Linked DNA regions of Homo sapiens: region 1 is linked to region 2. A link means that fine-mapping ties the variant in region 2 to the expression of a gene that starts in the linked region. Tissue or cell type: whole blood. Region 2 holds a variant in brackets; the other region holds the start of a gene. All regions are shown on one strand. Distances are from middle to middle.

What was found. PIP is the estimated chance that this variant, and not a neighbour inherited with it, causes the effect.
Region 1: it holds the start of UBE2Q2, and the variant in region 2 is fine-mapped to the expression of UBE2Q2 in whole blood (INTERVAL, PIP above 0.99).

What each region holds. Positions count from the first base shown.
Region 1 is chr15:75,840,160-75,848,264 of GRCh38, reverse strand. UBE2Q2 (ubiquitin conjugating enzyme E2 Q2) reads right to left here and starts at 4,818. Exons shown (of 13, transcript NM_173469.4): 1 at 4,419-4,818. The coding sequence starts at 4,598. RefSeq lists silencers at 4,008-4,407, 4,658-4,737, 4,878-5,017, 5,058-5,237 and an enhancer at 3,839-4,736.
Region 2 is chr15:76,086,194-76,094,298 of GRCh38, reverse strand. The region is part of intron 1 of TMEM266 (transmembrane protein 266); the gene reads right to left. Among named protein-coding and RNA genes, the nearest start is that of TMEM266, 30 kb to the right of the region's middle. The variant C/T (reference allele first, on the strand shown) is at 4,625.

The DNA of each region.
Region 1 (8,105 bases), 250 kb after region 2:
TATTTCCCACAAAAACCTGTTATAAAGCATTTTCAAAATAAAGTGTTATTCAGCCACAAATGACACCATCGCTTTTATATTTGTAGAACATAATATCATTGCCAAAGAGCTTTCCTCTATATGCTCTCTTGCAGTGCAAAAAAATATTATCTATAGTACACAGAAACACAGTAAAAGAAGTGACTTACTTAAGCTCCTAACTACTAAATAAAAGCTAAACTTCTCACTTCCTCCTAGATTCACAGCTCCAACATTTTTAAAATTTAGTATCTTGCTGTTGGGGGTAGGCACTTTTTGGCAATAATGAATAGAAATTTAATTAACCAATCAAAAACAAAGTCCCACTAAAAGCAGCCTAGCAAACAGCCACTTATACGCAGAAAGGGTAATCATTTATGCTCTACAAGTAATATAAAAAATGAAGTTTCATTTGTTTACTAGCTAATTTACTTCCTGGGGGAGATTTTTCATTCTAAAACAGTGATTTCCTACCAAGAATGCCCAGATGCCAAAAAGTCCATAAAAGGAGTAATGGAGTTGCCAAGTTATGTTAAATACTTCAAAACGACTAAAGCCATATACTAGCTCCCAATAAGGCTGCTTAAAACAAGCTGCTTTGCATTTCGGTGTGATTGTAACAACTAATTAGACGGCAATCAGGTTAGTTTACTGAAGATGGAAAAACTATACTTAAGTTTGTATAACAGGCAATCTTTCATATCATGGCTTCACAGAAAAGAATAAAAAGGACTCGAGGTTGAAAAAGAGCACTCTTTTCCCTTCATTATTTAAGATCAGGACAAATTTATAAAACAGGAAAAGAATTAGCTCAATTCCCTTGGCCTACAGAGTAAAACATCTACTCTGTTTTGGTCTTTTTCACTTCTTACACTCTCATATGAAGTCAATTTACAGACTTCCATCAAGCCCTTAGAGACCTTTTTGTACTATCCATGACAAGTTATTGATGTTATCTCTGCACTTTTGACAAATTCTTAGCAGTTAACTTACAAGGCAGTTAAGATTTTTGTTCAAATACAATACAGCTAGAATAGCGCTATATACTCAAATATTTATGAAGCATTTATTGAGTGGAAGATAAAAAGCACAAAGCATAATTATAAAATATTCTCCCCTGCCACCATAAAAAGAAAAATTTAAAGGCTTACAGAATACAGCATAAGAAAACATGACCAAAGCAAAAATAGTAAGGACTAAAGAAGGGAGGAAGGGGAAATAACAGCATGAACTAAATATGACCCAGAAGAGCCTTGACGGATGGTCAGGCATATAAAGACAAATGGGGTAAGGTTAAGGGGTGGAGGTCAGGGGCACATTCTACAGGGAGAAATACAGCTGATACAGAAACCTGAAAGGAAAAGCCAGCAGAGCACCTGTACAGGACTCTTCAGGAACTAGCATGCACGTGTGTAAAAAACAACTTAGTTTCTCAAACATTAGAGAAACTGCATAAGGATGTTTCTTGGTAAGTATAAAGAAAACAAGTCCTAGCATGTAGAATTCAAATATTTGAACTGTCTAAAGAGGAAAAGTTAAAGAATAAGTCAAACTCATTACCTTTTCCAGAGTTACAACTTTAGAGAATAACAAATCATCGATCAAACCAAATCATTTGAAATCCAACCCCATTTTTCCCTTGATCTTTCCCTTCTAAGCAAATGGTATCGACATGAACAAGCCATGTCATTTTATCAAAACAGTCATCCATGTTTAAAAGAGTCTTTACGGCCAGGAACGGTGGCTCACTCCTGTAATCCCAGCACTTTGGGAGCTTGAGGTGGAGTTCAAGACCAGCCTGGCCAACATGGTGAAACCCCGTCTCTACTAAAAACACAAAAATTAGCCGGGTGTGGCGGCGGAAACCTGTAATCCCAGCTACTCGGGAGGCGGTGGCAGCAGAATTGCTTGAACCTGGGAGGCGGAGGTTGCAGTGGGCCCAGGTCACACCACTGCACTCCAGCTGGGACGACACAGCGAGACTCCGTCTCAAAAAATAATAATAAAAAATAAAAGAGTCTTTTACCTTCAAAAGATACAAGCAGAAATATTTACAGATGAAGTGATCTGTCTGGAATCTGCTTCAAAATAATCTAAAGTGGAGTACAGATGAAGATTAGCCAAAAGTTTATCATTGTTGAGGCTGGCTACATTACACTGTTCAACTTTTGTACATTTGATGATTTTCCATAATAAAAAGTTAGCAGACATTTGTACTGAGCAGCTGCCATGATAATTATCTCCTGATAGTCTGTCATATTTCACTAGCAAGTCAATTTTAATAGTTTCTACCTAGCGGTGGGTGCCATTACACTAGTCCTCACTAAATCCTCCTTGTACTGAAAGTGTCTCATTCACTTCTTGCTCCATTTCTGTTGCCACTGCCTAATCCAGGTCATCACTCCTTATTTTTATCTGCAGCAGACTCTTACCAGCCTTCAATATGGTTCTCGATGGGGCACCAGTGGCACTTTAGGTGGGATAATTCTTTGCTGTGGCAGACTGCCTGAACGTTGCAAAACATTTGGTATCCCTGTACTCCTAGCACTAAATGCCGGCACAGCAATAAGACCACCCCACCCCCACTGGGATAACCACATTTCCTAATGCCACCCACTGTAGAGAACCATTTCTAATCCTGGATGAAAGATACATTCTCCCAACTTACCTGAGTAAACTTAGTAGCTCCCCACAGCCTACAAATTCAGTCTCCTATCATTCAAACCAGCCCTACCTTTTCGTGGCCATGCCCCAACTTCTACCAGAGTAATCACCCTCGAAGCCATTCAGGCCCGTCTCCTTAAAACACCTGCTTCATGACAACTACTACACTTTCTGTTTTCCACTCTTGGAAAATCCTCCCCTTCTCCAGCCTGTATCGTGGGCTTCTCAAGTCTTAGCATAAATTTTCTACTTCTAAGGAAACCACACTTTCTCAAATCTCCGTGTCTTCTTTGGGTGGAGTTTCCTCAGTCTAAAATGCCCTTCCGCCAGCCTTCCAAAATTGTAGTCACCTGTGGAAGCTCATCTCTAACTGTCTCAGCCTCTCATCAAAGCCTTCCCTGAAGCGCACCTCCCCCAAGTCAAAATTAGTTGCTTTGGCTTTCCTGATGATACCACAGGAGCTGTCACCTTATTGAACTCTTCCCCCAAGAAGACTGAGTTCTGAGAGCGAGGACGACTTCACTCAATTCTGCAACACTAGTGCCCAGAACACTCAGACGTATTCATTCAATAAATGAATTATCTCCTCAGTACAGCACTTGTCTTTTTTTTTTTGAAATTAACACACCTTCTGCCCAGATAGTCTGGTAACCATTTTAAGGTCAATTATAACATCAAGGTTTTTGCAAACGCCAGCCACCCTGCAGGCACTTGAGTACCCACTGACTCAACCAAAGGGAGTTAAAAACAAGACTTGGTTTTAGCCATGTTTGAAAAGGAGCCCGAAGCCACCACCTTGACGCCTATTATAACCAAGAGAATATTCTGCAGTTTGGACCAATATCCTACATCAATTTCACGACGAATAGCTTCACGATACACTTTTATGGAGAAACTTAATACTTCAATTCCTTTACCAAGCCTTGGGTTTCTAATGAGATTTCCGCTTAATGAGTGAGTTTTTAAAAGTGTCTTTTCGGCTTTGTGACATACGTGATCTTTCCGGGGAGCAGCCCTGGCGCGTATCTCCTTTCACCTATCCATTTTCGAGGCTTACACACAAGGGAGGGGCCACACGAATACACACTCAACACCACCTGCCGCAACGACGGTACTATGCTCCTTTCCAGAACACAGCAGCGCGCAGCCAGGCCCGGGGGAGAGGGGTCGCTCAAACAGCACCAGAGTCTGCATTCCAACTTTTCCTCCGTCAACGAGTCCATTCTCATTGTCAGTTTCTCCTTAAACGCAAACTTAAAAACAATTGGCTGAACAAGCGGGAAGAAGGAAAATCCGACTGAAAAATGAGGCGTTAAAACTTAAGGGCCGTTCCCCTTGCCGGCCTGGGCTCAAACAACAGCCGGAGCTGCGCCGCCCCGCCCCGCCCCGCCCCGGTCCCGGGAGCAGGCCGGCTGAGGGCGGCCATGGACCCCACAAGGGCTTGGGCCGCCGCGGACTCCCCCCTCGGGGCTAGGAGACGGGGACCGAGATGGGCCAGAAGCCCCCAAGCCAGCCCCTGGCGAGAAGCCGGAAAGACGCGCCCTCCGCCTCCTCCCACCCAAGCCTCGCGCAGTCCCAGCCCGGCCTGGGATGGGCAAGTCGCGGGGGAAAGGGGCGGGCCTGCCCCGCCCGGGGAGCCGGAGCCTCTCCGGGGCAGGCTCCCCTTTGTCCCGGGACTCGAAGCGCCCCCTCTCCGTCCTCGCCCTGCCCCGCGGGGCCGCGGCCGGGCGCCTCACCGTGATGTTGCAGTGGAGCGTGAGTGGCGGCGGCAGCGAGTGCGGGCTGCCCTGCTGCGGCACCAGGAACTGGCAGTGCAGCTCGTCCAGCTTCCAACTGACGATGCGGAATCGCTCGTGGTTCTTGTCGAAGATGGACGCCAGGAACTTCAGCTCGGCCTTGAGCCCTGACACGGACATCTTCCCCTCATCTCCGGCGGGAGGGGCGCGGAAGGGGAGCCGGGCGCGGAAGGGGAGCCGGGCCCGGAGCCGCCGTCACGGCCGCGACCGCCCCGCGGGGCCGGCCTGGGCCGCGCTCTCGCGGCTCCGCCTCGTCGAGCGCTGCTGGAAAATGGCGAGGGGCGCGGAAGCCTCGGCGTGTGGCGGCCTGGGTGGCGCTTCCTTTGTAACCGACTCCAGCGGCAGGAGGCGGCGGCCCCGCGGCTTAAAAGGGCAACAGCGACGCCGCCCCCGCTACCGCCTGGGAAAGGGCTGCCCCCACCCCGCCCCCGTCCCCCTCACCCTGGCGCGCCCTGCGCGCTCCGGTTTCAGCGCGTGCACGAGGCCAGAGCGCGCGCGCCCGGCCGCCCCCTCCTCGCCTTGACCCAGCTCCCTTGTTCCCGACCCATCTGCTCCGTTCTTCGCACCCGCGGACTGGAGGCTCGGGGCCAGCTGGCGCCCGGGCCCCAGAAGTCGGGGAGGAGCCGGAGACCCCCGCGCGCCCCCGCCCCCGGCCTGGAGCCGGACACGTGCGTGGCGGATCGCGCCGGCCACGTCGGCGCCGCTGCAGACTAGCGCCAGCCCCTGGGGGCGGCTCCTCAGCTTGGCGCTCGGCGCGGCACCCGCTAACCTCACTGGGGGGACCTCGTGGGAGACGCGGGTGCGGCTCACCCAGCGTTACCTCCGCTACTTTCACCCTAGTCCGAGCCACCGCTTCGCTAGCCTGGGTTCCTGTGAGGACCTTCTCACCAGCCTGGGTTCCTGTGAGGACCTTCTCACCGGACTCGCTGCTCCCGCCTTTGCTCTCAAACCATCCATTTACCCAAGACGATGGTTTAGCCCCTGGAGGCTGTTGCCTGGAGGTGTCCCATGATTTCATCCCTTCCCTTAGCTACCACCTGTGTTCACTCTGCCGTATATAGTCTCTCTCTCCCCCCTTTCCTTATTTTGCCTTGTTTCCCAAGCTTAAGATAACCCTCCCCACCCACACCCCCATGGAGCTAGGGCTGCCCACTATTTTCACTAAACTCATAGCTCAAATATCATCTCCGGCACCCCCCACCACAACCCATTTCAAATAGTCACCCTGTGTCACATCGTCCTGTGCTAAGTTTTTGTTGGGCACCTGTCACTATCTGATCTTTAACCCATTTATTCCTTGTCTCTGCCCCGTGTTAATGTGTTCAGAGCTGTATCCCCAGGACCTAGAACAAGACCTGTTATATAGTAGAAACCCGATATGATTGAATTGAATGCTCGCTCTTATCTGGAATCCCCACCACTAGCACAATTCCTGGCACATTGTAGGTGCTCAAAAAATGAATAAAGGTCTGGATAGCAGTCCAAAGGAATACATCCCAATTTGGCAGACAATAGTGTGTGCAATCGTAAGTGCAAGAGGCAGGACCAGCTGCATATGCGTCCAACCTATGTAGTTGCACAGTGCTCCCAGCTTAGAAGGGCTTCGAGCTTGGTTTAATATTCTGGTGTCGCCATTTTGAAATTCGTAATTTTTCAGAAAGGGGCTCCGCATTTTCCTTTTCCAGTCTTACCTAGAGTTACCCAACCCTGACACCTGTCTCTTTCTTCCTAATCTACAAGAGATCCCTGGGCTACTGGTCCCCTTAGATGACAAAATACAGAACAACACAGGGACACATTAAGTCTACTGAAAGTTTTTATTTCCATCTACTTCTGAGATTTTGTATCATGTTATAGTCCTTAGCCTTTAAGAAGACAAATAAACTTTTCCAATTTACCTCAGTAAGTTAGTAGCTCCCCACAGCCTACAAATTCAGTCTCTTATCATTCAAACCAGCCCTAACTTTTCCTGGCCATGCCCCAACTTCTACCATCTTCTACCCCAACTTCTATCTAGCCTTTAAGAAGACTAAGATTCTCACAGACCCCTTTGAGAATCTAATAAAAGCTATGATCCATCTTCCCAGGAAAATACTTCTGCATCTAAAATTTTGTACTTATGGGGATTCATGACCCCAGCACTAGAGCTACCACACTATACACTGGGACTGGGAGAAGAAGGGGTTCCAGGCCTGGGTTCTGAGCCAGAAACAACTAGGCTACTGTATTAGCATTATTGCTGGGTTAAGCACAGAAGTGGCTTGCCACTTTATTTTTCCTTCAGTCCCCAGTTTCTTGGGACCCTAACAGGCATGGCATTCCCAGATAAGGATTTGAGACAAAGAGCAACAAACTCTTGAGAAGTTGGTATGACTTCGAGAAACAAAATTCCCTAAACAAGCTATTTAATCTGTCTAAGCTTTATTTTGTTACCTCTAGATTGCTGTGAGAAAATAGAGCTTTTTAAATTGCAAGTGTTTTTACTAGTTGTATCCCAGAAATATATACAAATATTAATTTCACAGTCGCTTTTTGAGCATCCATCTGCTGCATGCCAAGCTGTAAGAGGGCTAGAAAGATACATAGATACAGTCCCTGATTTTAAGAAGCTTAACATTTAGCATCAAAAACAAAATATTGTTTCCTGATGCTTTTGGCTGCAAATAATAGAAAACTGTGATTTAATCTGCCTTGGACAATAAGGAAATAAATTACTTCACATAATAGGAAGTCCAAAGACAGAACAGTCTCCAGGATTGGTTGACCTGAGCTTTCATGTCATCAAAAGTCCAAATTCTTTCCATCTCTTTTGTTGGGTTGAGAGCAAGGTGGCTGTAGCTGTTCTTGCAGTTCACATCCAGACATGAAAATATCCAGAGGCAGAAAGGACATTTTCTTCTATGTTTCCTTCTAACACATGGGAAGCTTTCCAAGAATCTTCCCAGCAGACTTCCCTTAGTGTGTCCTTGGCCAGAAGTGTGTCACATGCCCACCCCTAACCAATCACAGAGAAGTAGATGGGATTACTCTGGATTTCCAACCTGCTGGGATGGAATGGTTGCTGGGGAGTCACCATAGTCTTACACAGACAAGTAAAGACAACATCAGATCATATGTGATATGAGGTTCAAACTACTGAACTACATTTCAGGGGAGGAAGAAACTAATTCCATGAATTATTTGCATGAAAGTAGGGCCATATTCAGAGGATATTCAAGAGCCCATTTGATTGTAGAGTACAGCAAGGGGCCAAGAGAAAGATAAAGTTGAGATATTACTTTTGATCAGATTTTGAGCCCTGAAATACCATGCCACAGACTATAGTATAATAGTTTCATTTGGTGAGAGGCATCACTTTTTTTTTTTTTTCGAGATGGAGTCTCGCTCTGTCACCAGGCTGGAGTGCAGTGGCACAATCTCAGCTCACTGTAGCCTCTGCCTCCTGGGTTCAAGTGATTCTCCTGCCTCAGCTTCCCGAGTAGCTGGGACTACAGGCATGCACCACCGTGTCCAGCTAATTTTTGTATTTTCACTAGAGACAGCGTTTCACTATGTTAGCCAGGATGGTCTCGATCTCCTGACCTCATGATCTGCCCGCTTTGGCCTCCCAAAATTCTGGGATTACAG
Region 2 (8,105 bases):
ACCTTATAGAAAAATCAACTCAACATGGATCAAAGACTTAAACATAAGACCTAGGACTATAAAAATCCTAGAAGAAAACCTGGGCAATACCATTTAGGACATAGGCAATGGCAAAGGCTTCATGTCTAAAACACCAAACGCAATGGCAACAAAAGCCAAAATTGACAAATGGGATCAAATTAAACTAAAGAGCTTCTGCACAGCAAAAGAAACTATCATCAGAGTGAACAGGCAACCTACAGAATGGGAGAAAATTTTTGCAATCTATGCATCTGACAAAGGGCTAACATACAGAACCCAGAAAGAACTTAAACAAATTTACAAGAAAAAAACAAGCAACCCCATCAAAAAGTGGGCAAAGGATATGAACAGACCCTTTTCAAAAGAAGACATTTATGCAGCCAACACACATATGAAAAAATGCTCATCATCACTGGTCATCAGAGAAATGCAAATCAAAACCACAATAAGATACCATCTCCCACCAGTTAAAATGGCGATCATTAAAAAGCCAGGAAACAACAGATGCTGGAGAGGATGTGGAGAAACAGGAATGCTTTTTACACTGTTGGTGGGAGTGTAAATTAGTTCAACCATTGTGGAAGACAGTGTGGTGATTCCTCAAGGATCTAGAACTAGAAATACCATTTGACCCAGCAATCCCATTACTGGGTATATACCCAAAGGATTATAAATCATGCTACTATAAAGACACATGCACACGTATGTTTATTGCAGCACTATTCACAATAGCAAAGACTTGGAACCAACCCAAATGTCCATCAATAACATATACACCATGGAATACTATGCAGCCATAAAAAAGAATGAGTTCATGTCCTTTGCAGGGACATGGATGAAGCTGGAAACCATCATTCTCAGCAAACTATCACAAGAACAGAAAATCAAACACCGCATGTTCTCACTCATAAGTGGGAGTTGAACAATGAGAACACATGGACATAGGGAGGGGAACATCACACACCAGGGCCTGTTGGGGGGTGGGGGGCTAGAGGGAGGGATAACATTAGGAGAAATACTTAATGTAGGTGACAGGTTGATGGGTGCAGCAAATTAACATGGCACGTGTATACCTATGTAATTAAAACTGCACATTCTGCACATGTATCCCAGAACTTAAAGTATAATAATAAAAAAAAGAATAAATAAATAAATAAATAAAAATAGCACCTGGCTGGGCACGGTGGTTTACGCCTGTAATCCCAGCACTTTAGGAGGCCGAGGCGGGTGGATCACGAGGTCAGGAGTTCGAGACCAGCCTGACCAATATGGTGAAACCCCGTCTCTACTAAAAATACAAAAATTAGTTGGGTGTGGTGGTGCACGCCTGTAATCCCAGCTACTCAGGAGACTGAGGCAGGAGAATCACTTGAACCTGGGAGGCAGAGGTTGCAGTGAGTCGAGAGTGTGCCACTGCACTCCAGCCTGGGTGATAGAGCGAGACTCAGTCTCAAAAAAAAAAAAAAAAAAAAAGCACCTAACTCATAGCATTGTCATGAATTCAATAACCCATAAAAGGCTTAGAATACTGACTAGAACATAGTATAGATTCAGTGACTATTAGCTATATTATTTATTTATTTATTTAGAGATGGAGTCTTGCTCTGTTGCCCAGGCTGAAGTGCAGTGGCACAGTCTCAGCTCACTGTAATTTCCGCTTCCCGGGTTCAAGCAATTCTCCTGCCTCAGCCTCCAGAGTAGCTGGGATTACAGGCACCTACCACCAAGCCCGGCTAATTTTTGTATTTTTAGTAGATACGGGGTTTCGCCATGTTGGCCAGGCTGGTCTCAAACTCCTGACCTCAGCTGATCCGCCCGCCTCGGCCTCCCAAAGTGCTGTGATTACAGGCATGAGCCACCACGCCCAGCTATTGGATTATTAATATCCTTCTCAACATGCCAACTTTGATTAGCTGTACCAATATTTTGTTACATGTTGAGCTTTAAATAATTTGTGTTCTGTTCTGAAACTATACAAAGTTTAGCATGCTTTGGGAAATTGCTCTTAAACTGAATCTAAAACATGAAGACCAATAAGCAGCATTTATACTATAATTACAGTATATTCACTGCAGAATCAGGTAGTGTGGTTAAATCAGGACAGAAAGGGATATAGTACTATTTCATTATATCCATGTTGCTGGATAGAGAAAGTTCAAGTATACAGATTTCTTTTTTTCTTATACTCTATCATATCGCTCAACATGATACTATATTTTAGCCTGCTTCATATTTGATCCATGACTTTTGCCATAGGTTTTTCTTTTCTTTTCTTTTCTTTTTCTTTTGAGACAGGGTCTTGCTCTGTTGCCAGGCTGTAGTGCAGTGGCATAATCAGTGCTCACTGCAGTCTTGACCTCCTGGGTTCAAGCTATCCTCCTGCCTCAGCCACCATGGTAGTTGGGATCATAGGGATGTGCCACCACACCAGGATAATTTTTGTATTTTTTGTTTCAAAATAGGGTTTCACTATGTTGCCCAGGCTGGTCTTGAACTCCTGGGCTCAAGTGATCCTCCCGCCTCAGTTTCCCAAAGTGCTGGGATTACAGGTGTGAGCCACTGCGCCCAGCCTCCATAGGTTTTTCTTTATCCTTCTGAGGTTTCTCATTGCCTACTTCTTATAGAAAGTAGAAACAGGAAGCAGAAATAAATGTTTTCTCCATTTTATGAAAGATCATCAAGATCCCCAAATTTTCTGTTAATTGATAATTTTTGTTTTGTTTTGTTTGAGATGGGGTTTCACTCTGTCATCCAGGCTGGAGAGCAGTGGTGCAATTATGTCTCACTGCAGCCTCGAACTCCTGGGCTCCAGATATCCTCCCACCTCAGCCTCCCAAAGTGCTGGGATTACAAGCATGGGCCACCACTCCCGGCCCTTAAACTGTCAATTTAAGACACATTACTCTGTGGGTCTGCTGCATAACTGTCATCCTGGCCTGGCTCCATTTTTTTTCTGAGGTCCCATGTCTTCCTCTTTGTTGAGTTCCTTTTATCTTTGCTGGAGTACACCCTCAAGTAATTTTTTTCAGTAAAATTATATAGAAAAATCTTCTGAGTCTCTACATGTCTGAAAGCAATTTGGTCTGCATCATGCCTTCTCCATTTTTTTCCTCTCACTTCAACACTATGGCTTTCACTACACTCCAATAAAAATGATCTTGATATGTTAGCCAGGATCTCCTAATTACCAAACCCAGTGGACACTTTTTTCCCTTTTATTTTTAGTTGACATGTAATTGTACATATGTATAGGATACACAGTGATATTTTGATACATGTATACAATGTGTGATGATTAAACCAGGGTAATTAGCATATCCATCACCTAAACATATATCATTTCTTTGTGTTGTGAATATTAAAATACTGTCTTATAGCTTTTGGAAAATATACAATAGATTACTGTTAACCATATTTACCCCCCAGTACTATAGAATACTATAACTTATTCCATCCATCTAGCTGTAATTTTGTATCTGTTAGACAACCTCTCCCTGTCCTACCCTCTTCCTCACCCTTCCCAGCTTCTAATAGTCACAATTCTAATCTCTCTACTTCTATGAGCTCAGATTGTTTTAGCTCCCAAATCCCGTGGACACTTTTAACCCTACCCATTTATTGTAGAATTTGACACTGTTGATAACCCTCTGATTCTTAAAACTCTCAGTTCCCTTGGTTCTTGGGACACTGTGCATCCTTTGCCCTTTTCCTCTCTTTTTGTTTCCTTTGAGGTTCTGCATTCTTTTCCCAACTTTTTTCTTTTTCTCTTTTTTTTTTTTTTTTTTTGAGACAGAGTCTTTCTCTGTCACCCAGCCTGGAGTGCAGTGGTGTGATCTTGGCTCACGGCAACCTCCACCTCCCAAGTTCAAGTGATCCTCCTGCCTCAGCCTCTTGAGCAGCTGGGATTGCAGGTGTGCACCACCATGCCTGGCTAATTTTTGTATTTTTAGTAGAGCCAAGGTTTCGTCATGTTGGCCAGGCTGGTCTTGAACTCCTGGCCTCAAGCAATCCACCCACCTCAGCCTCCCAAAGTGCTGGGACTATAGGAGTGAGCCATCATGCCCGGCTCTCTTCCCAATCTTTCAATACTGATATTCTCTGATGTCCCATCTCTACCCACTGACGGTCTTTCTCATAAATGGGCTTTCTGAAATAGCTCATCTAGCACTATGATTTCAGCCACCAACTATCTGATGACATAAAGCACTAAATGTCACACACGAATTTCAAAATTAGTCTATCCAAATCTTAACTGATTATCTTACCTCCATCCAAAGGCTGTTTCCATGTTCGTGGTTTTTATTTTGTCTTGTGAAGTTACCATCCACCCAAATCTTCCCAGTTAAGAGCCATGGGAGTCATCCTTAATCTTTCCCTCTTTCACAGCCCCCAACCAGTTGCCAAATCCTCTCAAATCTCTCAGAAATGTCTCTGGAGTTTCATCATCTTCTCTAGTCTCACTGCTACCCTAATTCAGATCCTCATTATTTCTCACTTGGATTACTGAAACAACTCCCAACTTGCCCCTCTGCCCTCGCCTGTGCCCTTGCCTCTCCTGTCGGTACATCCTTCATTCAATTAGTGATCATCCCAAAACAAAAAA[C/T]GCACGACCATATCTTTGCCCTATTTAAGACCCTAGCTAGCTCCCTCCTGCTCACAGAATGTTTAAACTTATTAGTATCATACACAACCTTTTGCAATTTATCTCTCCCCATTTCCATTTCCAGCCTTCCCTCTCACCCTTCAACCCCACGAATTCTACAATTCAGCTATAAGAAACTTCTGGGCTGGGCGCGGTGGCTCAAGCCTGTAATCCCAGCACTTTGGGAGGCTGAGGCGGGCAGATCACAAGGTCAGGAGATCGAGACCATCCTGGCTAACACGGTGAAACCCCGTCTCTACTAAAAATACAAAAAAATTAGCCGGGCGTGGTGGCGGGCGCCTGTAGATCCAGCTACTTGAAAGGCTGAGGCAGGAGAATGGCATGAACCCGGAGCGGCAGTTGCAGTGAGCCGAGATTACGCCACTGCACTCCAGCCTGGGCAACAGAGCGAGACTCCATCTCTAAATAAATAAATAAATAAATGAAACTTCTGAAGATCACGGCCCCTGCTCACACCTGTAATACTTCCTCTTGAAGACTCTATGCTTTTCTTTTTCCTCTTTTTTTTTTTTTTTTTTTTTGAGACAGAGTCTTGCTCTGTTGCCCAGGCTGGAGTGCAGTGGCACGATTTCGGCTCACTGCAACCTCTGTCTCCTAGGTTCAAGCGATTCTCATGCCTCAGCTACCTGAATAGCTGGAGTAACAGGCATGTGCCACCATGCCTGGCTACTTTTTGTATTTTTAGTAGAGACGGGGTTTCACCATGTTGGCCAGGCTGCTCTTGAACTCCTGACTGCAAGTGATTCACCCACCTTGGCCTCCCAAAGTGCTGGGATTACAGGCGTGAACCACCATGCCCCGCCTTTTTTCCCTTTTTTGAGATGGAGTCTCACTCTGTAGCCCAGGCTGGAGTGCAGTGGCGTGATCTCAGCTCACTGCAAGCTCCGCCTCCCGGGTTCATGCCATTCTCCTGCCTCAGCCTCCCGAGTAGCTGGGACTACAGGCGCCTGCCACCACGCCTGGCTAATTTTTTGTATTTTTTAGTAGAGATGGGGTTTCACTGTGTTAGCCAGGATGGTCTCGATCTCCTAACCTCATGATCCACCCACCCTGGCCTCCCAAAGTGCTGGGATTACAGGTGTGAGCCACTGGGCCCAACCACTTTATTTTCTTTTTTTCTTTTCAATAGAGACAAGGTCTCCCTCTGTTGCCCAGGTTGGTCTCGAACTCCTGGGCTCAAGGGATCCTCCTGCCTTGGCCTCTAAAGTGCTAGGATTGTAGGTGTGAGCCACTATGCCTGGCTGATGCTTTTCTATTTACTGTTTCTTTCCTAACTTCTTCAGGCCCAGTTGCTCCCTGTACACTCCCAGAGTACCCTGCTAATAACTTTTCATCACACTGTCTTATTGCCATCTATTTTCATCTTCCTCTATGGCTATGCCATCAACCTCTTAAAAGCCAGGCTTATGTTTTACATATTGGTATCATCAGCACCTAGCATAGGTCTAACCACTAGAAGACACTTCAGTGGATGTTGAGGAAGAAAAGAGGACAGGACTTTGGGGAAAGATTATGTTCAGGAGGCAGGAAGAAGAGCCATGCTGAGGGTGCTTTGAGGGTAACAAGGACCCTGTAGTCACAAAAGCCTAGGAGAAAATTTCAAGAAGCTATTTGATTGTTGCAAAGAAGTTGTAAGAGATAAGGTTGTGAATAGATCACTGGATCTGGAGACTTGGAAGTCTCTGTGCACCTTCAGGAAAAGACATTCCAGTAGCCTGAGAAAGGAGCTGCTGAGGTTTGAGGGGGGCTTAGGAGAGATGGAGTGGTGAGGGAGCAGTTCTTTTTGACTTGACTTCTACAGCATTTGACATCAGCCCCTCACATTTGTTTAATCACTTTTCCCTTCTTTGGCTTCTATGATGTGACATTTTAAGGTCTCCCAGGATTCCTTCAAGGGCTGTGTGTTCCCTACTGCCCTTTAAATGTCAAGGTTTCCAGGGTTCTGTTTTTAGCTCTTGTCTCTGCTTAATCCATACACTCTCTCATTCATGATTATTTCAACGATGCCTACCTCCTGATGACTCCAGGTCCTTATCTCCAGCCCAGGACTCTCCCAGAGTCTCAGACCCATAGCTGTTAGTTCTGTCCACTGGACATGTAGATGCCCAGATGTGCAACTACCTCAATATTTTTGAAACTCATCTACTGCCACCAAAAATCTCCCCCTAAAACCTGTGTACCAATTTTCACCAAATATACCTATACTACCAAAGGGTATAACCCCAAATTTTCTTAACTCTTTCCTCTTCTCTAATCACTTAAGCCTTATCAATTCTATCATCTCAATCTAGAAATTCATCCCCTTTCTCCATCCCCACTGCCACTTCTTAAATTCTAGCCTTAAAATTTTTCAGCTGCATTATTACAGTCTCCCCATGTCTAGTCTCAATCCCCTCTTTCAGCCTTCTCCACACCACTTCCAAAGAAGTCTTTTTTCTCTAGTACTTTAAAAAAAAGATGCACAATTTATATACAATACACACATTTTAAGCATACAGTTTGATGAATTTGAAAAGAACCACCAACCCAATCAAGATGAGGCAGAAGAGGGACTGGAGGCAGGGAACCTAAGGCCAATTCATGCTGACTTCCTAGAACTAAATCAAAAGGAAAGCCCCAACTTTCCATGCCCAAGTAATAAAAGGACCAGAGGGTACTCCCTTTGCAACACCACCGCCCCCCCCCCGACCTGCTCCCTTTTTCTGCATGGCAGATGAAAAATTGGAAGTACCTCTGATTGGTCCCCTCCTGCAAACAATCAGGCTGGTTATGGGCCAAGTCTTCATTTGCACAGGAGTATAACTTTGTAACTTCACTTCAGCCTCTGATTGGTTGCTTTCTGCAACGAATCAGACGTTTGCATAGGGTATAACTTTGTAACTTCACTTCAGCCTCTGATTAGTCCCCTCCCACAACCAATCGGACTGATCATGGGCCACTACTTCATTTACATAGGGTTTACAGCAAGTAACCAATAGGAAACCTCTAGAGGGTATTTAAACCCTAGAAAATTCTGTAACCAGGCTCTTGAGCCCCTTGCTTGGGCTGCTCCCAGCCTGTGGAGAGTACTTTCATTTTTAACAAATCTCTGCTTTTGTTGCTTCATTCTTTCCTTGCTTTGTTTGTGCATTTTGTCCAATTCTTTGTTCAAGACACCAAGAACCTGAACATACTCCACTGGTAACAAAGATATAAAACATTTCCATCACCCCAGAAAGTTCTCTAGTGACTTTGCAGTTAAGCCTCTGACACCCAGAGGCAACTGCTGTCCTGATTTCTATCACCATTGCTTCATTGCCTGTTCTTAGACTGTTTAAAAATGGGATCCTATGGCATGGATTATTCTGTGCCTGGATTCTTCAGCTCAACATAATGTCTGAGACTCATCTAGGTTATTGCATCTATGAGTAGTTTGCTCCTT